2 separate regions of the Homo sapiens genome follow, and region 1 is linked to region 2. Evidence: fine-mapped expression QTL. A gene starts in region 2. The other region holds a variant in brackets. All regions are shown on one strand. Distances are between the middles of the regions.

Region 1 (15,248 bases), 22 kb after region 2:
GCAACGAGCAAAACTCCGTCTCAAAAAAAAGAAAAAAAAAATACAAAAATTAGCTGGATGTGGTGGTGGGTGCCTGTAATCCCAGCCACTCAGGAGGCTGAGGCAGGAGAATCGCTTGAACCCGGGAGGCAGAGGTTGCAGTGAGCCGAGATCGAGATCGCGCCACTGCACTCCAGCCTGGGTGATACAGCGAGACTCTGTCTCCCGACAAAAGGAAATAGGAACAAGGAGGAAAGGAAGTCATCCATATTTCAGAGAACTTCTAGTTTTACTTCTTATGTATATTAGAGAGTTCCTTCTTTTTCTTTTTTTTAAGAGACAGGATCTCTCTATCACCCAGGCTGGAGTTCAGTGGTGTGATCATAGCCCACTGCAGCCTCGACCTCCTGGGCTCAGGAGATTCTCTTGCCTCAGTCTCCCAAAATGCTGGAATTACAGGTGTGAACCACCACGTCTGGTCAAAAAGTTCCTCCTTACCCTGTCATCCTTGGATGATTAATTCATCTCTTGGTCTTACAGATGCTTAATGAATCGCTGTCCCTACTTCAGAAATTATTGCCAGCTTAAAAAAAAAAAAGCTCCGTGGAGTCAGTTAAGACGCAGTAGTGTAGTCCCAGGGTGCGTGCACTGCCCCGACTCAGCCTCAGAAACAGACGTGTGCCACACACAGTGCCTCTTGACACAGCACTCACCGAGCGCCCTCACGGCACAGTGACGGCAGCTTCCCCATGGTGCCCGCAGTGGCGAGGCCTCAGCTGTGGTTGGGGTGGTGATTTTAGAGAAAGGCCTGGAAGCTGCCTTTCAAACCAAAAATCCGTGTTCTCTCCTTGACTATTAGGTGGCTTTCTGAAGCTTTTGGAATCGTCTTAGAACATAATTTCATGTTTTTTTTCTACAATTTTCAATTCCCCAGACACTTGAATCCAGACACAGAACTGAAAAGGTATTTTGGTGCCCGGGCAATCCTGGGGGAGCAAAGGTAAGGTCCACAGTGAGCTGCATTCTCACAGCTGCTTCATTCCTTCTTAGACTCTTGGCCGGGGGTGGTGTTCCTGAAGCTAGTTTACCCTTGAGGGAGAGTATTTAAAGCCAGAGTGCACACGTAACCCTTAGAATTGGGGTCTGAATGGGAGTCCACAGATTGTCTGTGTATAACCTTGTCTGTGACCGTGGGTTGTAGAGATGCTCAGAGTAGCTGGTCTCCATCCCTCACACTGCCTTGTCCAGCATGAGGTTTCAAAAGCCATGCCGAGTGCAGTGCTCACGCCTGTAATCCCAGCACTTTGGGAGGCTGAGGCGGACAGATCACCTGAAGTCAGGAGTTTGAGACCAGCTGGGCAACATAGTGAAACCCCGTCTCTACTGAAAATACAAAAATTAGCTGGGCGTGGTGGGCAGGCATCTGTAATCCCAGCTACTCAGGAAGCTGAGGCGGGACATTCGCTTGAACCCAGGAGGCAGAGGTTGCAATGAGCTGAGATCACACCACTGCACTCCAGCCTGGCCGACAGAGCGAGACCGTGTCTCAAAAAAAAGTTTTCAAAAGCTGTTAAATTTTAAGATTCTAGTTTTGTCGTGGTGGCTCACGCCTGTAATCCCAGCACTTTGGGAGGCCAAGGCGGGCGGATCACCTGAGTTCACGAGTTCGAGATCAGCCTGACCAACATGGAGAAACCCCGTCTCTACTAAAAATACAAAAAATTAGCCAGGCATGGTCGTGCATGCCTGTAATCCCAGCTACTCAGGAGGCTGAGGCAGGAGAATCGCTTGAAACCGGAGGCAGAGGTTGCGGTGAGCTGAGATCGTGACGTTGCACTCCAGCCTGGGCAACGAGAGCGAAACTCCATCTCAAAAAAAAAAAAAAGATTCTAGTTTTGCTTCTCAGAGCAAAACTAATGTGAAGGTCAGGTTCTGAGATAAGTTTCTTTCTCTCTTTCTTTCTTTTTTTTTTTTTTTGAGGCAGATTCTTGCTCTGTCGCCCAGGCTGGAATGCAGTGGTGTGATCCTGGCTCACTGCAACCTCCGCCTCCTGGGTTCAGGCAATTCTGCCTCAGCCTCCCGAGTAGCTGGGATTGCAGGTGCACGCCACCACGCCCAGCTAATTTTTTTTTTTTTTTTTTTTTTTTTTAGTAGAGACGGGGCTTCACCATGTCGGCCAGGCTGGTCTCGAACTCCTGACCTCAGGTGATCCACTTGCCTTGGCCTCCCAAAGTGCTGGGATTACAGGCGTGAGCCATGGCGCCCGGCCCAGATAAATTTCATCTGTGTCCATTCAGTAGTTCTTAGCAGTTGGGCAGCCCCAGATGAGGATGGCTGGCTGCGATGGGGAGCACAGGGTCTTTCAGCTCCTTAGAGGAGGAAGAGCAGGGGGGGTGTCTGCTTCTGGGACTTTATGTAGGAGGTATATTCCACCTCTGGACTCTCCATCGAAGTGTCCAGAAGGCTTTGTCTTTTTTTTATTTATTTATTTTTATTTTTTTATTTTTTAGAGACAGGGTCTTGCTGGGTTGTCCAGTCTGGTTTTGAACTCGTGGCCTCAAGTGATCCTCCCATCTCAGTCTCCCAAATAGCTGGGACTACCGGCACATGCCACCGCTAATTTATTTTATTTTATTTTTTATAGAAACAAGGTCTTACTTTGTTGCCCAGGGTGATGTCAAACTCCTGGCTTCAAGCGATTCTCCTCCCTCTACCTCCTAAAGTGCTAGGATTACAGGCATGAGCCACCACGCCCAGCCAGACACATCCTGTTTTATTGGACCATGGAGAGTATTGCTGGTCTATAACATGCCCTGGGTTTGCACGTCTGAGTTCTTTTTTTTTTTTTTCGAGACAGAATTTTGCTCTTGTTGCCCAGGCTGGAGTGCAATGGCTCAATCTTGGCTCACCACAACCTCCGCCTCCCGGGTTCAAGTGATTCTCCTGCCTCAGCCTCCTGAGTAGCTGGGATTACAGGCATGTGCCACCATGTCCAGCTAATTTTGTGTTTTTAGTAGAGATGGGGTTTCTCCATGTTGGTCAGGCTCGTCTCGAACTCCCAACCTCAGGTGATCCACCCGCCTCAGCCTCCCGAAGTGCTGGGATTACAGGTGTGAGCCACCGTGCCTGGTCTGCACGTCTGAGTTCTAAGCATTGTTTTCTTTTTTTGAAATGGAGTCTCGCTCTGTCACCTAGGCTCTGGAGCTCAGTGGTGCGATCTCAGCTCACTGCAACCTCCGCCTCCTGGGTTCAAACGATTCTCCTGCCTCAGCTTCCCAAGTAGCTGGGATTACAGGCGAGTGCCACCATGCTCGGCAAATTTTTGTATTTTTGGTAGAGACGGGGTTTCACCATGTTGGCCAGGCTGGTCTCGATCTCCTGACCTCAAGTGATCCGCCAGTCTCGGCCTCCCAAAGTGCTGGGATTACAGCCCTGAGCCACTGCGCCCGGCCTCCCAAAGTGCTGGGATTACAGGCGTGAGCCACCACACCCAGCCTAAGTGTTGTTTCTGCACCATGGTATACCCAGGTCATTTCCTCACCCCAATGGTAGCATGTGTCCAGATGTTGGCTACAGTCCCCGGTGTCTGCAGGCATTTCTGTGAAACTGCCCAAGAATGAGTATATATCCTGCATGCTGCCAGTGCCTTCAGTAGAGTTACGTGGCTCACACTGAGTGTCTGCCCAGGTCCTTCACCTTCTTACTCGTAGTCGACGGTAGTGGTTTGGAAACCTGCCGTCGTGTGTGGGCAGAAGTGTTGGGGTTTTGATTGTGGGTAGATCAAGGATGTTTTCATATGCTGTTGTTCACGCCTTCCCTGGATTTCTAACAGGTTTTGCTTTATATTTTACTTTACATTTTTGGTGTTGATGGGTTTCTTCGGGAATATTAATTAAAAATAGACTTTAAAATGTCACTTTGTCATCTGCATTTCTCTGAGCTGAGGGTTCCACCTCGTCCCACCCTTTGTTTGCATCTGCTTGGTCTGTCTTGGTCATTTCTTTATATTTTTGCATGGTTTTATTTCTGCAAATTATAATTATTAATAGTAATTAGTATTATAACTGTTAATACTGATTACTCGTAGTAATTAGTTGACAATAATTGCCTTTATTATTTTTATAGTATTATTAAACTTTTTTGTTTATTTATTTCTTTAAAAATTTAAGTCCTACCAAAAGACTTACATGGAGAAGCCACAGTTTCCTTTTTATTCATTCCTTGTCCTGCTCCTCCAAGACAAAGACCTGGCCTGTTTCCATTTCTCCTTCTGGTGGTTCTCTCAGAAGCTCAGAATAACAGGCACTGCTTTCTCTTGGGTCCTTGACTTCCTACTACGACAGCCCGGTCAGCTCATCGCCCCCGCACTTCAGCACACTCCTCCCATTGCTCAGGGCGCCTGCCAGCCTTCAGAGCTCCTCCAGGCTCCTGTCCCCTGCCCCCTCCTGGCATCTGCCCAGGCTGCCTCGTTGGGTCTGTTCTGGAGGCTTCCTTACTTGTTTTGTGGGATAGCTCACCGCAGGTCAGGCCATCCCTGGGATTCTGTACATCTGGCCCAGGAGAGTGCTGAAGGGCTGACTCTCCTAGGCCTGGGCGTGTGCTACAGGCAGGAGAAGCAGGCTGGGGCCACCTTCATGTCAGGAGGGCCCACCACACTGGCCTCCACTCTGCGGTGGCTGAACTGTGGGGAGCCCGGGGCCAGGGCAGGGATGGCCCCGTGGGAAGGGAGCTGCACCGTGCTGATGGTGACCGTGGGCATGGCTGCTGCTGTCTGTGCTGCCGCGGCTGCCACGCCCCACCTGTCTGGTGCCTGTGTGCTCAGGCAGAGTGCCCTGACCTCTGTTATTTGGGGGTCTCTGCCACAGGGGTCAGGCCCACTCTAAGCACTGGTCAGCTGGTATCTGAGCTGGGCAGGTGGGGCAGCATGGAAAAGGCATGGAGCTGCTGTTACCTCAGAGATGGTTGGTTTCTTAAGTTGAGTGATGGGCATGTGGATATTAGTACGTTGTTCTCTTTCTTTTCGTTTTCTTTTTTTATTTTCCTCTTGAGACAGGGCCTTGCTCTGTCGTCCAGGCTGGAGTGCTGGGATCACAGGTGCAGGCCATCACGCCAGGCTAATTTTTAAAACCCTTTGTAGAAATGGGGTTTTGCTGTCTTGCCCAGGCCAGTCTCGAACTCCTGGGTTCAAGAAATTCTCCCATCTTGGCCTCTCAAAGTGCTGGGATTACAGGTGTGAGCCCCCGTGCCCAGCCAGAATTGTTTCTTTCTCTCTATGGGGCCCTCCCTGCTGCACCCGTCCCACAGCAGTTGCTGACGCTTGTTTGCATCCTGTCCTTAATGCGTCCCCACCCTGCCCCACATGCCTTCTCTGCCCCTCAGTTTTGCTTCCACAGCCCGTGCAGGGATCAGGCAGCCAAGCCTTGGTCCCCACACGCCACAGGAAGTAAAGCTGTACCTGTGTCCCGTTCTCCCCAGGCCACGGCAGAGACAACGTGTGTACCCCAAGTGCACATGGCTGACCACCCCTAAAAGCACCTGGCCCCGCTACAGCAAACCAGGTGAGGGTCTGCAGATGCTGCTGGGGATGGAGGGTTGGGGGGCGTTGTCTGTGCACTGGCCCCGGTACAGCAAACCAGGTGAGGGTCTGCAGAGGCTGCTGGGGGTGGAGGGCGGCGGGGGGGTGTGTTCTGTGCACTGGCCTGCGCTGGGCACCAGGGGCGTCAGTGCCTCTTGAGCCGAGACTCTTTGCTCCAGGAGCGCTCCAGGAGTGTGCAGTGTGTGACTGTTTGTTGCCACACTGAGGGCCTGAGTGCTGGAGGCCTGGCCCAGTACCTCAACACGGAGCCTCCCAGGCACAGTCTTTGTGTGACTGTCTTTTAACGCAGGTTCTTCCTACCATTCTGCCATCGACCTTTCCCTTATGGAAGCAATCGAGTTCATTTTAAACTGCAATATTTTGTATATTATTGCAAACTAATAAGTGATTTTAAGATGAATTGCAACAGTGAAGACAGGCATGGAGTGTTGGGTGCTTGGTTGTGTGGTGTGGGGAAGTGTCAGGAGGCCTTCCACACTGGCCTCCACTCTGCAGTGGCTGAACTGTGGGGGCCCTCAGGGGCCAGGGCAAGGACAGCTTGTGGGAAGGGAGCTGTGTGGTGCCCTTGGTGATCGGCATGGCTGCTGCTGTCAGCGCTGCCATGGCTCCCACGGCCGCTTCTCCTGCGCCTGTGTCTGTGGGGGTGCCGGAGATTGCCTGCATACATTCTGTAAGGACACATCTAGGAGCGAGGCCTGTGCTGTCAGAAGGTGAACCCCGCTGCTCACGGCCCCTTCCCTTCCTGGCAGGAACCCCTGCTCACTGCAGACAGGGGTTCCATGGCCATGTATTCCTGCAGGACTGGGGCCTTGGGCAGGGCCATCAAGAAGGTATCACTACAGGGGACCTAGTCCATGGAGGTCCTGGGAGGCTGAGCTTTCCAGGTTTATCAGAAGAAACTGGGTCCCATACACCCAGTCAGACAAGAGGAGCCAAGTGAGAGGGTGGTCACACGTTACAAAGCTCTGTGGCTTCAGAGGCCTGGCGCTGTGGCCACCTGTGCCACCGCACTCCAACCCTGTCCTTCCACAGCCACCCCGGACATTCTCCTCAATCAGACGTGGTCTGGGGACAGTGCTCGGCGTGGTCAGATCTGGCGATCTGTGGACTGTGTGTGTCCTTGTCCCTGACATTCCCTCCAGGCCAGTGGGGCTAGAGCTGTATCCGAGTTCTGGAGGCAAACACGTCTTGATAGGAAACTAAAGCAGACGGGATGCCGTCTCCTGGTGTAGACCAGACGGCGGGTGTTTTGGGAAGGTGTCCGGAGCTGGTGACACCCATGAGTACACACTCAGGTCAAGTTTGTCGATATCGCAGAGGCCTCATCCAGAACACCACGAAGGTGAGGGCTGTGCTCGGAGCTGCCCACGTCCCTGCTCCCGGCACACCCTCCCTGAGCACTCTCCCCTCCCAGGTCTGTCCATGCGGCTGCTGGAATCAAAAAAAGGCCTCTCCTTCTTTGCGTTTGAGCACAGTGAGGAGTACCAGCAGGCTCAGCACAAGTTCCTGGTGGCCGTGGAGTCTATGGAGCCGAACAACATCGTGGTGCGTGGTCCCTGCAGCCCCTGACAGGAGCAGGGGCCATGTAGCCACCACTGCCCTGGGCCGCCTGCTTCCCTGGTGGCTGGGGGAGGCATGCTGCCTCCTGCCCTTCCCAACAGGAAGGGTGCCAGTCTCTGCAGGGCGGTCTGGCCCTGTGACCAGAAGGAGATGTGTTCGGAGGCTCTAGGCCAAGCGAGCTCCATCCATACTCAGAGGAGAGGCTGGAGCGCTGCTCTCTCAGCCGTTCCTGGGGACCGTCGCAGTAGTGCCGTGTGATGCAGGCCCAGGACTCTGGGGCTTCTCACTGCTGCCCTTGCCTCCTGCGGCTCAGTGCAGGCGAGCAGCTCAGATTCCCGGCCCCCGTGCAGCCCCCGGACGGCCCCCACACGGCCCCGGACGGCCCCCGCGCAGCCCCAGACAGCCCCGGACCTGGACAGTCCCCGTACAGCCCCGGTGCAACCCTGGACAGCCCTCATGCAGCCCCTGGACAGCTCCCCTTGCAGCCCCGGACGGCCCCCGCGCAGCCCCAGACAGCCCCCGGGCGGCCCTCACGCAGCCGCC[G/A]GACAGCTCCCCTTGCAACCCCGGACAGCCTCCGCAGAGCTCCCCGTCATCTCCCTGTGGGAAAAGCAGGCTGCTGCTTTCCATTCCTCTTTCTTGGGGCTTAGTGGGGAGTTAGGTGGCCCCTGGCCTGGGCATGTCAGGTTCTGAGTTCTTGCTTTAAGTCATATAATTGGTTCAGCTTAGCAATAATAACTAGCCTATTTTGAGTTGGGGGGACGTTGTGAGTGTCGACCCGGTAATTCCCCCGTTTTTGTTTTTGTTTTTGGAGTCGGAATCTCACTCTGTCGCCTAAGCTAGAGTGCATTGGCGCAGTCTCGGCCCGGGTTCAAGCGATTCGCCTGCCTCAGCCTTCCGAGTAACTGGAATTACAGGCACACGCCACCACACCCGGCTAATTTTTGTATTTTTATTAGAGACCAGGTTTTGCCACGTTGGCCAGGCTGGTCTTGAACTCCTGATATCAAGTGATCCTCCTGCCTCAGCCTCCCAAAGTGGTGGGATTACAGGCGTGAGCCACTGCGCCCAGCCTCCGCTGGTTTTAAATGTCTGAAAAAAAGGCATGCCTGGGAGCTGGGGCCTTGCTGAGTGCCTTTCCTCCAGGGCTGTCCTCCCTTCTGGTAGGTTCTGCTCCAGACGAGCCCTTACCACGTTGACTCACTCCTGCAGCTCAGCGATGCCTGCCGCTTTCAAGAGGATCAGGAGATGGCTCGAGACCTCGTAGGTAAGGCAGAGCCCCCACCCCATTCCCCTCAGCTGTGGGAGCACCTCAAGCTATCAAGACAGATGCGATGGTGTAAGATGACAGGGGTTGCCAGGATATCCATGACAGCTTTATTGAGATACAACCTACGTAGCACAAAACTTACCCATTTAAAGTTTTTGTTTGTTGGTGTTTAATATATGCCACAGCCTCCCGAGTAGCTGGGACTACAGGCGCCCGCCACCAGACCTGGCTAATTTTTTGTATTTTTAGTAGAGATGGGGTTTCACCGTGTTGGCCAGGATGGTCTCGATCTCCTGACCTTGTGATCCACCCACCTCAGCCTCCCAAAGTGCTGGGATTACAGGCATGAGCCACCACGCCCCGCCCTCTGGCTTTTATTTACAATGAAGTTTTCAAGGTTCATCCTCACTGTAGCGTCGATCAGAACGTCGTTCGTTTTTATGGCTTAGTAATACTCCACTGTGTGGACGGACCACATGTTGTGTATCCATCATTAGTTGACGGCCGTGTGGGCTGTTGTAAATAATAGTGCTTACGTCAGCATGCACACGCAGTCTTAGGTGGACACATCTGTGCTGCACACATGGACGCCTGGTTCTGTCAGGACGTGGCAGCAGTTGTGCCTCATGGTGTTGAAAGTGTTACCATGTCAAGCTCACAAGTTCTGTGGTTGAAATAAATGCAGCGTGGCATCCAGGGTGCCCAGGGGCATGTCTGCCCTCTCAGTGTCCAGGACTCTAGTTTCGTGACCTTCCGTCCAGACCTTTCCTTGTTGTCCATTATCAGAGGAGGGGCCGTGGTTGCTGTGTGTGGCCATGACACCCTCCCCTGGCGTCCCTGTGCCCACAGAGAGAGCGCTGTACAGCATGGAATGTGCGTTCCACCCCCTGTTCAGTCTCACCAGTGGGGCCTGCCGGCTGGATTACCGCAGACCCGAGAACAGGTGAGTGCAGCTGCCCTGGAGGTGACGCAGCTCCCCTTCCCTTCTCCTGCGAGTGAGGCTGGGGGAGGTGCAGTGGGCACCTCATGGCTGCCCTCCAGGGTGGACCAGGGCCCACAGGTCCAGAGTGACCCACCTTCCTCTCTCTGGGCTTAAGGATAGAGGGATGGGATTGTCTCAGCCCAGGTTTACCTTTGTCTGTGGACATGCCTGATGCTACTGTGGAGGTCAGAGTGGGAGGTCTGCTGAGCCCAGGAGTTCAAGTCCAGCCTGGGCACCATAGTGAGACCCCCATCTCTTAAAAAAATAAAAATAAAAATAAATGTTTGTGTTAGAAGTGAGCCTGGCTGGGCACAGTGGTTCACGCCTGTAATCCCAGCACTTTGGGAGGCCGAGGTGGGAGGGTTGCTTGAGCCCAGGTGTCAAGACCAGTCTGAGCACCGTGGCAACATGCAGTCTCAAAACAGCATTTTTTTTTTTTTTTTTTTTTTGAGACGGAGTCTCACTCTGTCACCCAGGCCGGAGTGCAGGGGCGCGATCTCGGCTCACTGCAAGCTCCACCTCCCGGGTTCAAGCCATTCTCCTGCCTCAGGCTCCCGAGTAGCTGGGCCTACAGGCACGTGCCACAACGCCTGGCTAATTTTTTGTATTTTCTAGTAGAGACGAGGTTTCACTGTGTTGGCCAGGATGGTCTCCATCTCCTGACCTTGCGATCCACCCGCCTCGGCCTTCCAAAATGCTGGGATTACAGGCGTGAGCCACCGCGCCCGGCCACTACAGAACATTTTAAAAACTAGCTGCGCCTGGTGGCGCGTGCCTGTGGTCCCAGCTACTTGGGAGGTTGAGGCGAGAGTATCACTCAAGTGAGCCCAGGAGGTCGAGGCTGCAGTGAGCTGAGATGGTACCAGTGCACTCCAGCCTGGGCAGCAGAGTGAGACCTTGTCTCTCAAAAAAAAAAAAAGAAGAAGAAGAAGAAGTGAGCCTGAGAAACCAGATCTCCACAGTGGGCTCTGCAATTGCATTTCCTTCTATGTTTGGCTGAGAAAACCCATCCCTGGCAAGTTTAGAAGCTTTGGAAGGCTTTGCAGGTTTGACCTTAAATCAGTGAGGAGCTCAGAGTCAGCCTGACCCTCGCTCCCCTGTGCTGAGCGACCGCATGTGGAGGTCTCTCTTCTTTCAGATACTTCTGCCCCTAAAGCCATCCCTCTGGCATCAGGCCTCGCTGGTCAGACCTAGACTGGCTTCCGCCAGGCCTTCCCGCAGCCTGTCCTGTGGGCCCTTTGTGGAGCAGACCAGCTTCTGTCCGCTGTCCTGCCTCTCCTGTGTGCAGTGCCCTGTTTCTCTGGCCGCCCTGGGTTGTCTGCAGTGTGGGATCCGCTCCTACCCTCTCAGCCCTCCTGGCAAGCCAAGGTCCGCTGACCCGTTCTGCACAGATTGTCTGCACTGTGTGCTGGGTCTGAATTTCCTCCACTGGTTTTCTTTATGTTAGTTTTGTCTCTTCCAATGAAATTCTTAGTTCTTTGAAGTAGATTATAAAATATTAATATTTCCCGACGCGAAAGAGACAGTGGGCTGTTGATGGAAGTAGCAGCCCACCAGCATCCGAAAGTCACAGGGCTCCATGTATCCAGCCTGAGTGCTGTTAGCCACTGTTGAGATTGGAGGATAAATTAAGATCGTAATTGTAACAAGAGATTTTAACTCTCTTCCTGTAAATGATAAATAATAAACAAAAAAACAAGATAAAGATTTCAGCGGGGCGTGGTGGCTCACGCTTGTAATCTCAGCACTTTGGGAGACCGAGGCAGGTGGATCACAAGATCAGGAGATCGAGACCACGGTGAAACCCCGTCTCTACTAAAAATACAAAAAATCAGCTGGGTGTGGTGGCGGGTGCCTGTAGTCTCAGCTACTTGGAGAGGCTGAGGCAGGAGAATGGCATGAACCCAGGAGGCGGAGCTTGCAATGAGCCGAGCCGAGATAGCGCCACTGCACTCCAGCCTGGGTGACAGAGCGAGACTCCGTCTCAAAAAAAAAAAAAAGATTTCAAAGAAGTTTGATTTTCAGTATGCAAATTCGTGTATAACTCTGTAAAGGACAAGGAGAGCGCACACCTCCTCTCCAGACATGGATCTCTGTGTGCTGGGCACGTAGAAAATGCCAGCAGAACCCAGAGAGCAGAATGGGGGTGGAGCGGGTGCTGACCGGGGCGCTAAGCAGTGTGTGGGGTGGAGCGGGTGCTGACTGGGGCGCTGAGCAGTGTGTGGGGTGGAGCGGGTGTTGACTGGGGCGCTGAGCAGTGTGTGGGGTGGAGCGGGTGTTGACTGGGGCGCTGAGCAGTGTGTGGGGTGGAATGGGTGGTACTGGCCAGGACGCTGAGCAGAGGGCGGGGTGGAGTGGGTGCTGGCCGGGGCGCTGAGCAGAGAGCATTCTCCTTTGTGTCGTTGTAATTCATGTGGAACTATTTTGGATCTAGGAGCTTCTACCTGGCCCTCTACAAGCAGATGAGCTTCCTGGAGAAGCGAGGCTGCCCGCGCACGGCGCTGGAGTACTGCAAGCTCATCCTGAGGTGAGTGTCTGCTCAGGGCCAAGCCCGTCCACGCTCCCTGTCCTGGCTGCAGGCCCACTCTCAGCCTGACGATGCCCCTGTTCCCCTTTGCTCTGCTCTCTGTGCTGCCTCCGGAAGTCTCGAGCCGGATGAGGACCCCCTCTGCATGCTGCTGCTCATCGACCACCTGGCCTTGCGGGCCCGGAACTACGAGTACCTGATCCGCCTCTTCCAGGAGTGGGAGGTGGGTGCGAGCCTGGTGAGGCCCCGTGGAGGGACGGACACCTGCTTCTCCTTCTGTTTTCTTGGTTCAGTATCTGTGCGCTCAGGGGACGTTTGGGGATGAAACGATAATCGTCTGAGGGCAGAACCACGTCCTCCTGCCTTGTTTGTCTCCCTTGCCGCCTCTACGGAGTGGAATGTGGTTTTCCTAGGGACAGTACAGCAGCCTTATGTCAGAATCCTCATACGTGTGTACACATGCTCAAACGTGTGTACACATGCACACGTGTGCCTGCAAGGACTGTGATGCTGGTAATGATGAAAAACCGACAACTCCCGAGCTCCTCATGGGCAGTTCAGGAAGATGCAGCCGGGAGGTAGAAGGAGGGTTGGTTGCGTGGGGCTGACACAGGGACCCCCAGCACGTCTGTCCTGTTCCATGGGAAGAGTGTGAGTACAGCAGGAGAGACTTGAGCTCTGTCCCCAGTAACTCTAACACAGACACGTGTTGGAATGATAATTTCGGTGTATTGGGTTAGATATAACGTATTAATCTCACCTGTTTTGTCTTTAATGCAGCTCCCAGAAAATTTAAATTGGGCCGGGCATGGTGGCTCACGCCTGTAATCCCAGCACTTTGGGAGGCCGAGGCGGGCGGATCACCTGAGGTCAGGAGTTTGATACCAGCCTCAACATGGAGAAACCCTGTCTCTACTAAAAATACAAAATTAGCTGGGCGTGGTGGTGCATGCCTGTAATCCCAGCTACTCGGGAGGCTGAGGCAGGAGAATCGCTTGAACCTGGGAGGTGGAGGTTGCGGTGAGCCGAGATCGCGCCATTGCACTCCAGTCTGGGCAACCAGAGTGAAACTCCGTCTCAAAAAAAAAAAAAGAAAATTTAAATTGACACCTGGGCTCCCATTATGTTCCTATGGGGCAGCACTTATCTGGAAGGACACGGGCTTTGTAACGCTAACCTCCAGCAGGGCCTGGGGCTGGGGAGAAGGCGACAGCTCTTGACTTTCTCTGCTTCTGTGTTGAATTTTTTTCATAGCACATGTTCATGGATAATGAAAGTGGGTAAATTATTTTGAATTTTTAAGCATTTGGCATAGTTGGCCAGGAAGTCTCACCCCCAGGAATGTGGTTTATAGAAATTCCTGGAGCTCACAAAAATGTAGGTGCAGGGAAACCTCAGGGAGTCCCCCAAAATGGGGCTGCAGAAGAATGTTGATGATGGTGTTTAAGGTCACAAAACTGTGAGTCTGTGATCCCATTTTGATAGAAAAAAATGCAGTGAGTCACATGTCTACAATATGTGACATAGGCTGAGAAAGGCAAGAGAAACTGGCACGGTGGTAGACTGCTCGGAAACTCGCGTGGCGGGCTGCTCTCGGAAACTCGCGCGGCAGTGGGCTGCTCTCACAGACTCGCGCGGGGGTGGGCTGCTCTCGTCTGTAAATTTTCCACATTGAGAGCACCAACTGCTCAGCTTCAGAGAGGAGCCTGGGCGGCAGGTGGGACCCTCACTCCCCACGGTGTCCTCGCTCCGGCTCAGTCTACTTCTCAGGCCCTCCCACGTCCTCTGTATCTTCTGCATGCGGAAAGCCCCCCAGGTGGACGTTTTAAGTTATCTTTATGCTGAGTTAGGAAGAGGCCCTTGCGTTGCCTGCAGAATATACCTGCTCGGGGTAGGGCTCACTGGTGATGTCAGAGCGTCTGCAAACTCACATATTTTGTCTTTATGACTTAAGGCTCCACGCTCTGTTTCTTCGTCCCTCGTAGGCTCATCGGAACCTGTCCCAGCTCCCTAATTTTGCCTTCTCTGTTCCACTGGCGTATTTCCTGCTGAGCCAGCAGACAGACCTCCCTGAGTGTGAGCAGAGCTCTGCCAGGCAGAAGGCCTCTCTCCTGATACAGCAGGCGCTCACCATGTTCCCTGGAGGTGAGTGAGCGCTGTGTCTCGCCTGGGGTAGGGGTGTGTCCTGTCAGCCGTGGGGGCTGCTCTTCCTGGTGGTGGAGGCCAGGTCCCAGTCCTTCCCCACACTTGTAGAAACATGCATTCTCTGGTAGGGCCTGCAAACCTGCCCTACCAAACCTGAAAGAGGGTCGGCTCATCTCGGAACCCGCTGCGTGCCAAGCCAGGCACGAGGAGGTGGCAGGCATCCCGACCCCCGTGGGGCCTGTGTTCTAGAGTGCAGAGACAGAACTGGCTGGGAGGTGCGGGGCATTGGATTGTACCAGTGCTGGGGAGGAGAGCAAAGCAGGGGAAGGTCTCGGCAGCGCCGAGGTGTGGCCGAGAGGGTTGTGCTCTGCACCATGCTGGGATGCAGAATGGAGGCCTGTGCCGCCCAGATGGACTCAGCCTGCACAGCCGTGACCCCTGACTGCATCTGGGTAGCTTCGATCCACGCACATGTGGCGGGCACAGTGAGGCTGCCACCTGGTCAGACCTCGGGGCTGACCCTGCCTGACAGCATGTGTGAAATCCCTCTTTAAGATGGGCCTCCTCCGAGGAGCTGTGAGGGGTGAGGGTGAAATCCCTCCTTAAGACGAGCCTCCTCTGAGGGGCTGTGAGGGGTGAGGGTGAAATCCCTCCTTAAGACGGGCCTCCGGCCGGGCGCGGTGGCTCACGCCTGTAATCCTAGCACTTTGGGAGGCCGAGGTGGGCGGATCACGAGGTCAGGAGATCGAGACCATCCTGACTAACACGGTGAAACCACGTCTCTACTAAAAATACAAAAAATTAGCCGGGCGTGTTGGCGGGCACCTGTAGTCCCAGCTACTTGGGAGGCTGAGGCAGGAGAATGGCATGAACCCAGGAGGCAGAGCTTGCAGTGAGCCGAGATCGCGCCACTGCACTCCAGCCTGGGCAACATAGTGAGACTCCGTCTCAAAAAAAAAGAAAAAAAAAAAAAAGACGGGCCTCCTCCGAGGGGCTGTGAGGGGTGAGGGTGAAATCCCTCCTTAAGACGGGCCTCCTCCGAGGGGCTGTGAGGGGTGAGGGTGAAATCCCTCCTTAAGATGGGCCTCCTCCGAGGGGCTGTGAGGGGTGAGGGTGAAATCCCTCCTTAAGACGGGCCTCCGGCCGGGCGCGGTGGCTCACGCCTGTAATCCTAGCACTTTGGGAGGCCGAG
Region 2 (15,248 bases):
TGCTACCACTCCCAGCTAATTTTTTGTATTTTTAGTAGAGATGGGGTTTCACCATGTTAGCCAGGATGGTCTCGATCCCCTGACCTCAGGATCTGCCCACCTCTGCCTCCCAAAGTGTTGGGATTACAGGCGTAAGCCACCGCGCCTGGCCAGAAGTATACTATTTTAAGGTTCACTATGGTAAGGTGAATCACTATGATAAGGTATAGTAAGGTATTATACACGCTATACAAATATTACTTAAAGGTAGACTGTGATAAGTTAAAGATGTATACCATAAGTCCTAAAGCAACCACTAAAATAAAACAGTTACAGCTAATAAGCCAACAAAGGAGATAAGATGGGACCATAAACAGTAATTAATCCAAAAAAAGGTAGGAAAAGAAGGAGAACAAACAAATGAGTCAAAAACAAAACAAATAGCAAATGACAGCCTTAAACACAACTGTATCTCGCATCACATTAACTGTAAGTCATCCACACGACCCAAGTAAAAGTTAGAATTTCCCAGACTGAATAAAAAAGTAAGGCTGGGCCGGGCGCGGTGGCTCACACCTTGATCCCAGCACTTTGGGAGGCCAACGCTGGCAGATCACGAGGTCGGGAGATCGAGACCATCCTGGCTAACACGATGAAACCCTGTCTCTACTAAAAATACAAAAAATTAGCTGGGCGTGGTGGCGGGTGCCTGTAGTCCCAGCTACTCGGGAGGCTGAGGCAGGAGAACTGCTTGAACCTGTGAGGTGGAGGGTGCAGTGAGCCGAGATCGCGCCACTGCACTCCAGACTGGGCAACAGAGGGAGACTGTCTCAAAAAAAAAAAAAAAAAAAAAAGGTAAGGCTGGATATGGTGGATATGGTAGCTCATGCCTATAATCCCAGCACTTTGGGAGGCTGAGGTGGGAGGATCACTTGAGCCAAGGAGGTCAAGGCTGCAGTGAGCTATGACGGTGTCACTGCACTCCAGCCTGGGTGACAGAGCAAGACCTGTCTGGGAAAAAAAAATCACCTAATTTTATCTGTAAAATTATGTATATTTCTGTTGATATATGCTTGGAAAAGCCTGGAGGATGGAAACCATTACTAGCAGGGATCACTTCTGAGCATGTGGTGTCTACATTTTAATTCTCTCATGTTTGAATTTTTTTTTTTTATTTTTTTGAGATAGAGTTTCACTCTTGTTGCCCAGTCGGAAGTGCAATGCCGCGATCTCAGCTCACTGCAACCTCTGCCTCCCAGGTTCAAGTGATTCTCCTGCCTCAGCCTCCTGAGTAGCTGGCATTACAGGCATGTGCCACCACACTTGCTAATTTCGTATTTTTAGTAGAGATGGGGTTTCTCCATGTTGGTCAGGTTGATCTCCAACTCCCGACCTCAGGTGATCGCCCACCTTGGCCTCCCAAAGTGCTGGGATTACAGCGGTGAGCCACCACGCCCAGCCTTGAATTTTTTTTTTTTTCTTTTTTCTTTTTTGAGATGGAATCTCACTCTGTCACCCAGGCTGGAGTGCAGTGGCACAATCTCGGCTCACTGCAAGCTCCACCTCCCGGGTTCACGCCATTCTCCTGCCTCAGCCTCCCGAGTAGCTGGAACTACAGGTGCCCGCCACCAGGCCTGGCTAATTTGTTTGCATTTCTAGTAGAGACGGGGTTTCACCATGTTAGCCAGGATGGTCTCGATCTCCTGACCTCGTGATCTGCCCATCTCGGTCTCCCAAAGTGCTGGGATTACAGGCTTGAGCCACCGCGCCCAGCCTTGAATTTTTTATAAGAAGGTATTTATTTTTGAAATCAGATATGGGAATTAAAACAAAATTGAATCACTGTTTAAAACTGAGCATCTCAGTTGAGGCCCCTCTAGCTTCCATGGTGCTTTTATGGTGAGTAGTGTCAGGTACACACCAATGTCTACACGTCTTCTTAGAAGGAATCTTAGATGTCTTTCCAAGACAGTGTGCAAGTTTTTTTTTTGTTTTTTGTTGTTGTTGTTGTTTGCTTTTTGTTTTTTTTGAGACAGAGTCTCTCTCTGTCACCCAGGCTGCGGTGCAGTGCCATGATCTCGGCTCACTGCAACTTCCGCCTCCTGGGTTCAAGCAATTCTCTGCCTCAGCCTCCCGAGTAGCTGGGATTACAGGTGCCCGCCACCATGCCCGGCTAATTTTTTGTATTTTTAGTAGAGACGGGGTTTCACCATCTTGGCCAGGCCGATGTTGAACACCTGACCTCGTGATCCACCTGCCTTGGCCTCCCAAAGTGCTGGGATTACAGGCGTGAGGCATCGCGCCTGGCCGACAGTGTGCAGTTTTTAAAGACCCTTGTAGGTTTTTGTTTTTAAACTTTCCAAAAGTATGTGACCCATCATGGCTTGGTTCAGAAAGACCCATCATGCCTTGGTTCAGAAACAAAAATCTGCTTAAGAGGGACTTTTACCACCATTTTTTTTTTTTTTTGAGACAGAGTTTCGCTCAGTCCCCCAGGCTGGAGTGCAGTGGCGTGATCTCAGCTCACTGCAACCTCCACTTCCCAGGTTCATGCCATTCTCCTATCTCAGCCCCCCAAGTAGCTGTGATTACAGGTGCCTGCTGCCACGCCCAACTCATTTTTGTATTTTTAGTAGAAACGAGGTTTCACCTTGTTGGTCAGGCTTGTCTCAAACCCCTGACCTCAGGTGATCCACTTGCCTTGGCCTCCCAAAGTGCTGGGATTACAGGCGTAAGCTACCACATCTGGCCCACCACCACTATGTTTAAACCTTACTCTATATCCTACCACTTGGCAATAGAAAACTTGGCAGGAGAAAACTCCTGGAGCCATCCTTCCTGAGAGAATGCCAAGGAGCACATATATTTTGGGTGGATACCTAAGTATAAAGAAAAGCAAGATTTTGGAGTAAAATAAAGTACTGAAGTAACCAAGCATCAGGCAGAAGGCAAGGATGGTTTGACCTCGGATGCGTGGAGGCCGGGATGCGACTGTTTCTCAGCTGTTTGTGGGCTTCCTCCCTGCTGATGCTGCATTTCCTCTGTTCCCTTCCAGAGCCGTCTGCACTTCCTGTAGCATAAAGGTGAGGACCATGTGGGATCTCTGGGGTCTGAGCAAGGCAGATGAGGGGCTCCACTGGCTTTGATTGGATGTGTTGGATGATGCTGCCTCACCAGGCACCTCATCCATTTCCTTTCAGGCAGAATCCATTCCTATACTTTCCAAGATAGTGTGCAGTTTTTAAAGACCCTTACAGGTTTTTGTTTTTAAACATTGCACGTTAGTAGCCTCGTGCCAAAAAACCCTTCACTTCCCCTCTAAAAGTCCTACCTTCTTACATTCTATAACTTTTTGGGTGTTTTAGGAGGGGCTTCTTATTGCAGTTGAGGTGTGTGCTTATGTGCAGGTGCACAGAGGTAAAGGGATCCTAACATTTAAAAGTATGTCAGCTGGGCACGGTGGCTCACACCTGTAATCCCAGCATTTTGGGAGGCCAGTGAGGCTGGCGGACCACTTGAGACCAGCCTGGCCAACATGGTGAAACCCCATCTCTACTAAAAATACAAAAAAATTAGCTGGGCATGGTGGCACGCACCTGTAATCCTAGCTACTCAGGAGGCTGAGGCATGAGAATTACTTGAACCCGGGAGGTGGAGGCCACAGTGAGCTATGATTGTGCCACTGCACTACAGCCTGGGTGACAGAGACTCCGTCTCAAAAAGACAAAATACAAATAAAAGTATGTCACCAGCCAGGCGCGGTGGCTCATGCCTGCAGTTCCTGCACTTTGGGAGGCTGAGGTGGGAGGATCTCTTGAGCCCAGCAAATTCAAGGCTGCAGTGAGTATGGCTGTGCCTCTGTACTCCAGCCTGGGCAATAGAGCAAGATCTGTGTCTTAAAAAAAAAAAAAAAAAAAAAAATATATATATATATATATATATGTTACCCCTCAGGCCTCAGTTCAGAAGCAAAACTCTGCTTAAGGAGTACTCTTACTACCACTATTTTTAAATCTTACTCTACATCCTGCCACTTGGCAATGGAAAAACTTCCACCTCATCCATGTTAAATGTTGATTATGTGCAGGGTAAGGTGGCAGGTCCCGTATAGTATAAAAAGGGAAAGTTCTTGCCCTCTAAGGAGCCCCTGTCCAGATGAGCAGGAAACGTGGCAGGTCCCGCATGGTATAAAAAGGGACGGTTCTTGCGCTCTAAGAAGCCCCTGTCCAGATGTGCAGCAAGCAGGAACCCCGTGCCAGTCTTCAGCCAAAAGGCACAGAGGAGACATCGGAGAGCACAGGGACAGAGAATATTCTCCAGGAAGCCCTGGCTGCCACGCAGGTCCCAGACTGGGGAGGGAGGTCCCCTAGCACTGAGTGTACCTGAATGTCTCTGGTGGTGCCTGGTTCATACCTCCTCCCTCTGTGCTGCAGATGAAGATGCCTTCTAAGAAATTTGGACACATCCCTGTCTACACACTGGGCTTTGAGAGTCCTCAGAGGGTATCAGCTGCCAAAACCGCGCCAATCCAGAGAAGAGACATCTTTCAGTGCGTTCTTCGCCTTGCTGCTGATGTCACTGTGGTGGTCGGGCGTGAAGAGGAACTTGGGAGCTGGGGTGGAGGGGGCTGGCTTTGTCTGTTTGCTAGGACACCCCAAGGAAATGGAAATGCAAGGCAGAGACGGATCGTTGTGTAGGGCTCTGGGAGGCTGAGCAGTATGAGATGGAAACTGGACTTGGGTGGTCAGGGAACAGTCTGCTGAGATGAACACTGCTAGCTGTGTTTGTTGCCTGAGGGCCAAGGGGAGGCCTAGGGTGAAAGGCAGCCAGGAGGGGGCTGTGGCATGCACAAGCAGGGAGGGGGGTGTGGCACCCTGGCTGGCTCCTCTCCCTGAGTGCCCTCTCCCACTTCCCAGGTCTCTGCAAGGGCCACAGTGGCAGAGCGTGGAGGAGGCGTTCCCCCACATCTACTCCCACGGCTGTGTCCTGAAGGATGTCTGCAGTGAGTGCACCAGCTTTGTGGCAGACGTGGTGCGTTCCAGCCGCAAGAGCGTGGACGTCCTCAACACTACGCCACGACGCAGTCGCCAGACCCAATCCCTCTACATCCCTAACACCAGGACTCTTGACTTCAAGTGACAGCCCCAGGTGGCCAGGCCTCCAGGAGGCACCAGGCAGGCCCTGTATCAGGCTAGGACGCTCTGAGCTGTGCATGTACATATATACATATATAGATACATTTATAATATATACACACAGTCTATATATTTATATACACTGTTTCCTGGCCCCAGAGCTCATTTGGGTTCAGGCGCACTTCAAAACCCTCCCTGGGGGAGGCTGTTTCTTCTCAGGATTCCTTGCCAGGGAGGAAGGGGAGGGAACAGGGTGGGTTTTCTCACTGAAGAGAGAAAGCAGAAGGTTCTAGATCCTGGCACAGACTGCATCCCATGTTCCCATGCTCTTCTCCGTCCCCAGGAATGCGAACGGCAGTTTCCCTTCCCCAGTGGACGTCTAGGTGGGGACAGGGTATCTTGGCTCCCAGCTGGACCAGAGTGCCCTGCTTGCCTCTGCTCTCCCTTTGTGGGGACTCAGGCAGCAGAGGCATCTGGGAAGTCTCTGAGTAGGCAGGGTCCTCCTGGGAGGCACCCCCACCTGTTTGAAAGGTCTGGCCAGGCGTGGTGGTTCAGGCCTGTAATTCCAGCACTTTGGGAGGCCGAGGAGGGAGGATCACCTGAGGTCAGGAGTTTGAGACCAGCCTGGCCAACATGATGAAATGTTGTCTCTACTGAAAATGCAAAAATTAGCCAGGTATAGTGGCAGGAACCTGTAATCCCAGCTACAGGGGAGGCTGAGGCAGGAGAATCGCTTGAACCCGGGAGGTGTAGGTTGCAGTGAGCCGAGATTGCACCACTGCACTCCAGCCTGGGCGACAGAGCGAGACTCTGTCTCGAAAAAAAAAAAGGTCCGTGCCAAGCTGCTCCCTGCCCTTGCCCTTTCCCTTTCCCTGGGGTCCAAACCACATGTGTCCTGCCTCTCCTGGCCCTACCACATTCTGGTGCTGTCCTCACTCGCCCCTGGCCCAGAGGCTCCTGAAGATGCTGGGCGGTCCTGGCACAGGGAGGAGCAGCTCTGTAAATCTGTGCACATGGCCACTCTTGGCCTAATAAAGGAGGTCTCACAGTCTTCTGTCTGGGATGTGCGCTGAGGATTCACCCAGCATGGCATGTTCTCCCAAGGTTGAAGCTGGGCTTGAGGGGCCACCTGCCTTCCAGGACGAGGAAAGGCCTCCTGGCTTAGAGTCAGGTGCCCACCAGGCAAGGGCTCCAGGCCTGCTCTGTCCACGCAGCCCTGGCTGCCTCTACCAGCTTCGTGGTCCTGGCCACCATGGTCAGGGCTGCATGCGGACGGCACAGACTACTGCCCATCAGCTCCTCTGGCCACACCTGCTGGCCTGGGGGGTACTTTGGTCTCATTTCCCAGATCCGTATTCTCGTTCTCCAGGGAGAGGATCCACAGGGGCAGGAGGTGTGACTGCAGGCTCTAGACAGGCCCTGTGCCGAGTGCTGTCTGCTCACCTGCGCCCGGCTCAGCCTGTTAACGGGGCCCTGCCCTGCTCCTCCGTGACGTTCTGCCGTCATCTTACCTTACAGATGAGGGAACTGAGGCTCAACGAGGTCAAAGAATTTGGCCAAAGATACACAGCTCACCCAGAACTTTGACTCCAGGCTGTAATGCTAGCCGTGGGGCCTGGAGGTCAGAAGGGACAGGACTTGTAACTGATGGGCCTGCGGGAGAAAATACTCCTGTCAGCTGGGGTCCAGGAAATCCAAACACACAAAATTAGAGCCCCCAGTAAAAACAGCCAGCTTCTAGCATGCGTGTAAGCATTTCACGGACTCTCTGGCCTGTATTTTTATTCCTGTTTAAAAATAAGAAAACAGGCACAGAGAGGGTCAGGGAACTCCTCCGGTCACACAGCCAGCAATAAGCTAATGTGTAGTGCTTGGTAAGGACGACGGTTGTTCTGGTTCTACGGGGACTCACACTCCCTATCATGGGGAGACTGGGTTGTAATTCATACAGGAACACTTGGAAATGAAAGCCCACGTTAAAACCCTAAACCACGGCAGGTGCAGTGGCTCACACCTGTAATCCCAGCACTTTTGGAGGGTGAGGTGGGCAGATCACTTGAGGTCAGGAGTTCGAGACCAGCCTGGCCAACATGGTGAAACCCCATCTCTACTGAGTACAAAAATTAGCCGGGCATGGTGGCACATGCCTGTAGTCCCAGCTACTCGGGAGGCTGAGACAGGAGAAGTGCTTGAGCCTGGGAGATGGAGGTTGCAGTGAGCCGAGATTGCGCCACTGCACTCCAGCCTGGGCAACAGAGCAAGACCTCATCTCACAAAATAAAATAAAACCCTAACCCATCCTGGGAGGGGCCAGGCCGGCTCACCAGGGCTGCTGCTTGTGCTCATGAAGCCGCAGTAAGTCGGGCAGGAGGCTGCTGGCACCTGTCTTCTCTATGCCCTCCTGTCCCCATGTCCCCAACCCCAGGCACAGGAAGCTGTGCCCTCCGCCCACTGAACCCAGCACTGTCTCAGCCTCATCTACTTTATTTTTTTCATTTTTTTGAGACAGGGTCTGGCTCTGTCGCCCAGGCTGGAGTGCAGTGGCGCGATCTCGGCTCACTGCAGCCTCAGCCTCCCGAGTAGCTGGGATTACAGGCGTGCGCAGCCACGCCCAGCTAATTTTTGTATTTTTAGTAGAGGGAGTTTCACCGTGTTGCCCAACCTGGTCTCGAATTCCCGACCTCAGGTGATTCGCCCACCTTGGCCTCCCAAAGTGCTGGGATTACAAGCGTGAGCACCGCGCCCGGCCCTTAGATCGTGACAAACGCGGGCGGCCTGTCCTAGAACTGTCAGAACCACTGTCCCTAAAGAGGCCTCGGGCGGGCAGTAAGGGCCGCGTCACTCAATGCTGCTCGAGGGGCGGCGGCTCCAGGGCAGAGGCGGGCATCGACGGCTAGATCACTCGAATGACACCCTGACACGAAAAGGACCAACTAGCAACGTCCGGGACGCAGCTGAAATGCTGCAGGCACGGTGCGGGGACAGGCCCCGGCGGGCAGAACGCGGCTGCGGGTTCCGGGCCACATGGATGGGCAAGGCCGGGCAGGGCCGACTGTCGCCGGCTGCGCGCCCGTTACCCCGAATCGAAGCCCGTCATCCCCGCGGGGCACCTCTCCATGCCCGGTGCGCACGGCGCGCAGACACCCAGCTCTCCAGAGACCTGGCCCGGACCCCCCGGAGCCCGCCCAGACGCCGCCGCTGAAGCGGGAAAGTTCCGGAGAGCCGCGACGCGCAGGCGCCGCAGCCAGGTCCTGCCCCCACCCCTCGCGCCAAGAGTGCGCAGGCGCGCAGCCAGCTCCCCCGCCCCCGACCCCGCGCGAAGAGTGCGCAGGCGCGCCGACAGCCGAGTTTTCTGCGCTTCCTTCTCCCTCTCTCCAGACGTCGTGGTCGTTCGGTCCTATGTCGCGCCGGGCCCTCCGGAGGCTGAGGGGGGAACAGCGCGGCCAGGAGCCCCTCGGGCCCGGCGCCTTGCATTTCGATCTCCGTGATGACGATGACGCGGAAGAAGAAGGGCCCAAGCGGGAGCTTGGTGTCCGGCGTCCCGGGGGCGCAGGGAAGGAGGGCGTCCGAGTCAACAACCGCTTCGAGCTGGTGAGGAGCGCGGCGGCCCGGGTGGGGGTGGGGTGGCCCTTGACGTTGTGGGGCGGGGCGAGCGTCCAGCCGGGTCGGGGAGCGGGGTTGTGATGCCAGGGGTGGGAAGGGTGACGTGGGTCCCAGCCGCAGTGGGGAGGGCGGGGCCGTGCGTCGGGGCCAGGGCGACGCGGGTGGGCGGTGGCGTGGGGTGAAGACGGCGGGCCGCGGAGTTAGACTGGGTTCTAACCCCGGTGAGGTGGGCGGGGCTAAGGGATGGGGCGGGGCCGTGCTGTCGGGGCGGGGCGACCGAATGGGCGGGGTTAAGCGGGGTCCGGGTTGTGGAGGGTGCGGGGCCTTGATGCCAAGGGCGTGGCCAACGTCCGCGGGGCCGGGCCACGACGTGGGCGGGATTAAATGGGCCTGCGGCCACGTGGCTGTCGTGGGGCCGTGACGCTAAAGGGCGTGGCTAAAGACGGGGGGGTGGCGAGGCGATGGCGTGGGCGGGGTTAAATGAGGCCTGGGGCCACCGTGGGGGTGGGGCCACGGCGTAGGGGCAGGAGTCGGGTGGGGCTTCCCTTTCTCGAGTCTAGAGGGGCCTTCTCTCGGTTCCAGGGTTGAGGACTTGCCAGGCCTCTGCGAGCATTCTGCTTTAATCCTCACAACAACTCTGCCTAACCCAGGGCCTTGCTCTTCGCGCATCCCCATCAGCCTAACCCAGCGGATTAGTCTTACTCTTTGCTGCATCTCCGGCAGCTCGTTTCTGGCACAGGGAAGTAACAGTTTGACTGTATGGTTTGCTCATGCGGTCCTGTGACGTTTTCTCCTAAGCCCTGGCCTCCGTCTGTAACTCTGCCTCTGCGGGCTCTGCGATCCTCCCACCTCAGCCTCCTGAGTATCTAGGACTACAGGTGGATGTCACCACGCCCGGCTAATTTTTTTTTTTTTTCTTTTTTGTAGAGAAGAGTTTTCGCCTTGTTGCCCAGGCTGGTCTAGAACTTCTGCGCTCAAACAATCTGTCCACCTCAGCCTCACAAAGTGCTGGGACTACAGGCGTGAGTCACCATGCTTGGTTGACTGCCCTTCTCGCATCAAGTCCACCTTTAGTGGTCCCCAAGACCCCCGTCAAGGTTCAGTAATTTGCTAGATTCACAGCAGTTACTGAAAGCTTTTTGTTTTGAGATGGAATCTTGCTCTGTTGCCCAGGCTGGAGTGCATTGGCACAATCCTAGCTCACTGCAACCTTGAACTCCTGGGCTCAAATAGTCCTCTCACCTTGGCCTCTCAGAGTGTTGGCATTAGAGGCATGAGCCACTGTGCTTGGCCCCGTAAGTCTTTTTAAATTTTTGTCAATGTAATTTGTGAAAAATGATATCACATTATTTTATTTTACACTTCTTTGGTAGTGAAATGCAGCACCTAGCTATGTATTCGTTGACCATTTATATTTCTCTTTGTGACAACCTGTTTATATCTTTGCCTTTTTATAGGGGGTTTGGACAGTCTTTTTGCTCGTGGAAGCTTGCTATCGATTGTCTCTAACGTATTTTCTCGGTTTGTGTTTGTTCTTTAACTTCTTTAATTTCTGCGTGCTGAAAGATACTGGAGCCACTTTTCTCATTGTTACACATCCATCTCTCTAGAGTGTCTTCACATAGATATTCCCTGACGTGAGTTTTTTTTTTTTTTTTTTTTTTTTTTTGAGATGGAGTCTCGCTCTGTCGCCCAGGCTGGAGTGCAGTGGCATGATCTCGGCTCACTGCAAGCTCCGCCTCCTGGGTTCACGCCATTCTCCTGCCTCAGCCTCCCAAGTAGCTGGGAACACAGGCGCCCGCCACCACGCCTGGCTAATTTTTTGTATTTTTAGTAGAGATGGGGTTTCACCATGTTAGCCAGGATGGTCTCGATCTCCTGACCTCGTGATCCGCCTGCCTCGGCCTCCCAAAGTGCTGGGATTACAGGCGTGAGCCACTGCGCCTGGCTTTTTTTTTTTTTTTTTTTTTTTTTTTTGGTTACAGACAGGGTCTCACGGTGTTGCCCAGGCTGGTTGCTGGTCTTGAACTCCTGGGTTCAGGTTATCCTCCTGCCTCAGCCTCCTGAGCAGCTGGGACTACAGCATACCCTACCATGCTCAGCTTGTTCTTTTAATGCTTTTTTTTTCCCATTTAAATATTTAATCTTTTTGGTATTTATATTTGTGTTGGTGGGAATTTGGAAAAAGTGTGGTTCATGAGTTGACAGAGTAAGAGTCTGTAAGGTCAGAAACCACACAAACCCTTGTGGACTTTCTGGAGTGAGTTTGAGTGTCAGTAACACTAACAGCCTCCATGGATGAATGACTGCTTATCGTGCTGTGTTCTTAGGAATTTCAGAGAATTTTATCCAGTGGCACACATCAGTCTTAATTTAAGCATTCCATACTTTTTTGCTCTTAAAACTCATATTTGGAAATAATATAATCAAAATGTTTATTGGCATTCTGTTAAATAGCTCTTAATAAACAGAAGTATGGGAGACAGTAAACAGCCAGTTACGACTAAATGGTTATGAATGTGAATGCATTGGTGAGAGACATGGTGTTTCTCTTTTTAAAAAATTTTATTTATTTAGAGACAAGATCTCTTTATGTTGCCTAGGTTGGTCTTAAACTCCTGGGCTCAAGAGATCCTTCCGCCTTGGCCTCCCAAAGTGCTGGAATTGCAGCTCCCAGTACTTTGGGAGGTGGGCAGATCACCTGAGGTCAGGAGTTCGAGAGCAGCCTGGCCAACATGGTGAAACCCCATCTCTACTAAGAATACAAAAATTGGGCCAGGCGTGGTGGCACATGCCTGTATTCCCAGCACTTTGGGAGGCCGACGTGGGCGGATCATGAGGTCAGGAGATCCAGACCATCCTGGCTAACACGGTGAAACCCCGCCTCTACTAAAGAAGTACAAAAAAATTAGCCGGGTGTGGCGGCGGGAGCCTATAGTCCCAGCTACTCAGGAGGCTGAGGCAGGAGAATGGCGTGAACCCAGGAGGCGGAGCTTGCAGTGAGCTGAGATCGTGCCACTGCACTCCAGCCTGGGCAACAGAGCGAGACTCCATCTAAAAAAAAAAAAAAAAAAAAAAAAATTGGCCAGGCATGGTGGTGGGTGCCTGTAATCCCAGCTACTTGGGAGGCTGAGGCAGGAGAATTGCTTGAACCCAGGAGGTGGAGGTTGCAATGAACTGAGATTGTGCCACCAGGCTCCAGCCCGGGCAATACAGCGAGACTCTGTCTCAAAAAAATAAATAAATAAATAAATAAATAAATCGTAATAATAATTATGGATTTGTCTATTTCTACTTTCAACCCTGTCAGTTTTTGCTGTGTGTGGGTGTGTGTGTGTTTTGGTTTTTTGGAGACAGAGTCTCGCTCTATTGCCCAGGCTGGAGTTCAATGTCACAATTATAACTCACTGTAATCTTGAACTCCTGGGCTCAAACCATCCTCCCACCTCAGCCTCCCAAGTAGGTGGAACTATAAGTGGGTGTCACCACACCTGGCTAATTTTTTCAATTTTTTTTGAAAGCCAGTGTGCTGGGATTATAGATGTGAGCTACCATGCCTGGCCTAGAATCTTTTCTGAACTGATTGGTAATGAAAATAGCAACCTATCAAAATTTGTGGGATGCAACTGAAACGATGATTAGAACTTTATCATCGTAAATTTTAAATTAGAAAAGTGTTTAAAAATCTAGAAATTTACCTGAAACTTCTACCTTAAACTAGAAAAAGAGCAAATTAAACTCAAAATGTGTCGAAGGAAGAAACTAATCAAAGAGGGGAATGCACAGAATAGAGTATGGACACGATGGAGAGAATCGGTGAGACCGAAACTTGGTTCTCTCAAAAGACGAGTTGGCAAAAACTCTAGATTGACTGATGGAGGGAAAAAGGGAAGGTCCAGGTACGTTACCATTTTCAGGGATGGGAGAGGAGTGTTCACAGGTACAGATGGTGCAGATAGTAACGGGCGATAAGGAACTTCTTGCTAATAAATTTTCCAGATTAGACAAATGGGCAAGTTCCTTTAAAGATAAAACTTATCTAAATTGACATGTGAAGAAATAAAAAAATCTGAGCCCTTTTATCTATTAAAGATACTGAATTTTTTAAAGTATAAAACATTCCAGGCTAGGGTTGGTGGCTGACACCTGTAATCCCATCACTTTGGGAGGTCAAGGCAGATCCATCACTTGAGCTCAGGTGTGTGAGACCAGCCTGGGCAATGTGGCAAAACCCCATCTCTACAAACAATACAAAAAAACTGTCCAAGTATAGTGGCACTCACCTGTGGTCACAGCTACTCGGGAGGCTGAGACGGGAGGATGGCTTGAACCCAGGAGGTCGAGGCTGCAGTGAGGTGAGATGACGCCACCGTACTCCAGCCTGGGTGACAAAGTGAGACCCTGTCTCAAAAAAAAAAAAAAGACAACCTCAGGCTGGGTGCGGTGGCTCATGCCGGTAATCCCAGCACTGTGGGAGGCCAAGGCGGGTGGACCACCTGAGGTCAGGAGTTCGAGACCAGCCTGGCCGACATGGTGAAACTCCGTCTCTATTAAAAATCACCATTTTTTTTTTTTTTTTTTTTTTTTAGGAAAAATGGACATTTTCCTCTCCCCCTAAAAAAAGATAAAACTCCTTCCTGGTTATTAACTGAAATGCTGATCGAGCTTTATCCTAAAGAAGATCAGTCGTGGACAAGAACCTTGTGAAATGTTCCCCATTTGAGACCCTAAAACTAATGAAAATCACAGCTTTTGGGTAGGTAATAAGGTGTTTTGTTTTGTTTTTTGAGACGGAGTCTTGCGCTGTCGCCCAGGCTGGAGTGCAGTGGCACCATCTCAGCTCACTGCAAGCTCTGCCTCCTGGATTCACTCCATTGTCCAGCCTCAGCCTCCTGAGTAGCTGGGACTACAGGCGCCCACCACCACGCCCGGCAAGTTTTTTTGTATTTTTAGTAGAGACGGGGTTTCACCGTGTTAGCGAGGATGGTCTTGATCTCCTGACCTCGCCATCTGCCCACCTCTGCCTCCCAAAGTGCTGGGATTACAGGCGTGAGCCACCGCGCCCAGCCAGTAATAAGGTTTGTCTGACGGTGATTGACAGCATTTTAGAGCTGATGCATGGCAGTAGAGATTGCAGCAAATCATGTGTCATCACCAAAACTTCACTGAAGAAGCAAAACTAGGCCTGTCACCCGTGCTGTCTGTGTACACAGATGGGCTTCAGAGCCTGTCACACGTGTTGTCCGTGTACACAGATGGGCTTCGGGGCCTGTCATACGTGCTGTTCGTGTACACAGACGGGCTCCTGGGCCTATCACCCGTGCTGTCCGTGTACACAGATGGGCTTCGGGGCCTGTCACACGTGTTGTCCGTGTGCACAGATGGGCTTCGGGGCCTGTCACACGTGTTGTCCGTGTACACAGACGGGCTTCAGAGCCTGTCACACGTGCTGTTCGTGTACACAGACGGGCTCCTGGGCCTGTCACACGTGCTGTCCGTGTACACAGATGGGCTTCGGAGCCTGTCACACGTGTTGTCCGTGTACACAGATGGGCTTCGGGGCCTGTCACACGTGTTGTCCGTGTACACAGATGGGCTTCGGGGCCTGTCACACGTGTTGTCCGTGTGCACAGATGGGCTTCGGGGCCTGTCACACGTGTTGTCCGTGTGCACAGATGGGCTTCGGGGCCTGTCACACGTGTTGTCCGTGTGCACAGATGGGCTTCGGGGCCTGTCACACGTGTTGTCCGTGTGCACAGATGGGCTTCGGGGCCTGTCACACGTGTTGTCCGTGTGCACAGATGGGCTTCGGGGCCTGTCACACGTGTTGTCCGTGTGCACAGATGGGCTTCGGGGCCTGTCACACGTGTTGTCCGTGTGCACAGATGGGCTTCGGGGCCTGTCACACGTGTTGTCCGTGTGCACAGATGGGCTTCGGGGCCTGTCACACGTGTTGTCCGTGTGCACAGATGGGCTTCGGGGCCTGTCACACGTGTTGTCCGTGTGCACAGATGGGCTTCGGAGCCTGTCACACGTGTTGTCCGTGTACACAGACAGGCTCCTGGGCCTATCATGTGTGCTGTCTTTGTAAACAGTCAGGATCCCAGGACTATCACGCGTGCTGTCCATGTACACAGGCAGGCTCCTGAGCCCATCACACGTGCTGTCCGTGTACACAGATGGGCTTCAGAGCCTGTCACACGTGTTGTCCATGTACACAGACAGGCTCCCGGGCCTATCATGTGTGCTGTCTGTGTACACAGGCAGGCTCCTGAGCCCATCACGCGTGCTGTCCGTGTACACAGGCTCCTTTCCATTGAAGTTCAGCTTGGCATAGAGCTTTTTATGAATTCGATTTGTCAAACACCTCAAAATAAGAATTTTTTTTCTTAGGAAGTCAGCATGAGTTAATAAAAGTAAATTGGGTGTTGGCCGGGCGCGGTGGCTCACGCCTGTAATCCCAGCACTTTGGGAGTCTGAGGCGGGCAGATCACCTGAGGTCAGGAGTTCGAGACCAGCCTGGCCAACATG

The links.
Region 1: its variant is fine-mapped to the expression of TCF25 in whole blood (TOPMed, PIP 0.96).

Annotation. Positions count from the first base shown.
Region 1 is chr16:89,886,739-89,901,986 of GRCh38, forward strand. It overlaps TCF25 (TCF25 ribosome quality control complex subunit), which reads left to right. Exons shown (of 18, transcript NM_014972.3): 5 at 914-979; 6 at 5,455-5,537; 7 at 6,990-7,120; 8 at 8,300-8,399; 9 at 9,252-9,345; 10 at 11,819-11,911; 11 at 12,029-12,134; 12 at 13,897-14,056. Among named protein-coding and RNA genes, the nearest start is that of TCF25, 21 kb to the left of the region's middle. The variant G/A (reference allele first, on the strand shown) is at 7,679.
Region 2 is chr16:89,865,155-89,880,402 of GRCh38, forward strand. It overlaps TCF25 (TCF25 ribosome quality control complex subunit), which reads left to right and starts at 8,438. Exons shown (of 18, transcript NM_014972.3): 1 at 8,438-8,705. The coding sequence starts at 8,514. It overlaps SPIRE2 (spire type actin nucleation factor 2), which reads left to right. Exons shown (of 15, transcript NM_032451.2): 13 at 3,035-3,062; 14 at 4,413-4,528; 15 at 4,896-6,165. The coding sequence ends at 5,118. LOC112268179 (a long non-coding RNA gene) reads right to left here and starts at 8,334. Exons shown (of 2, transcript XR_002957933.2): 1 at 7,814-8,334; 2 at 5,223-6,767. RefSeq lists enhancers at 7,196-8,152, 7,923-8,082, 14,351-15,020 and silencers at 8,163-8,282, 8,753-9,222.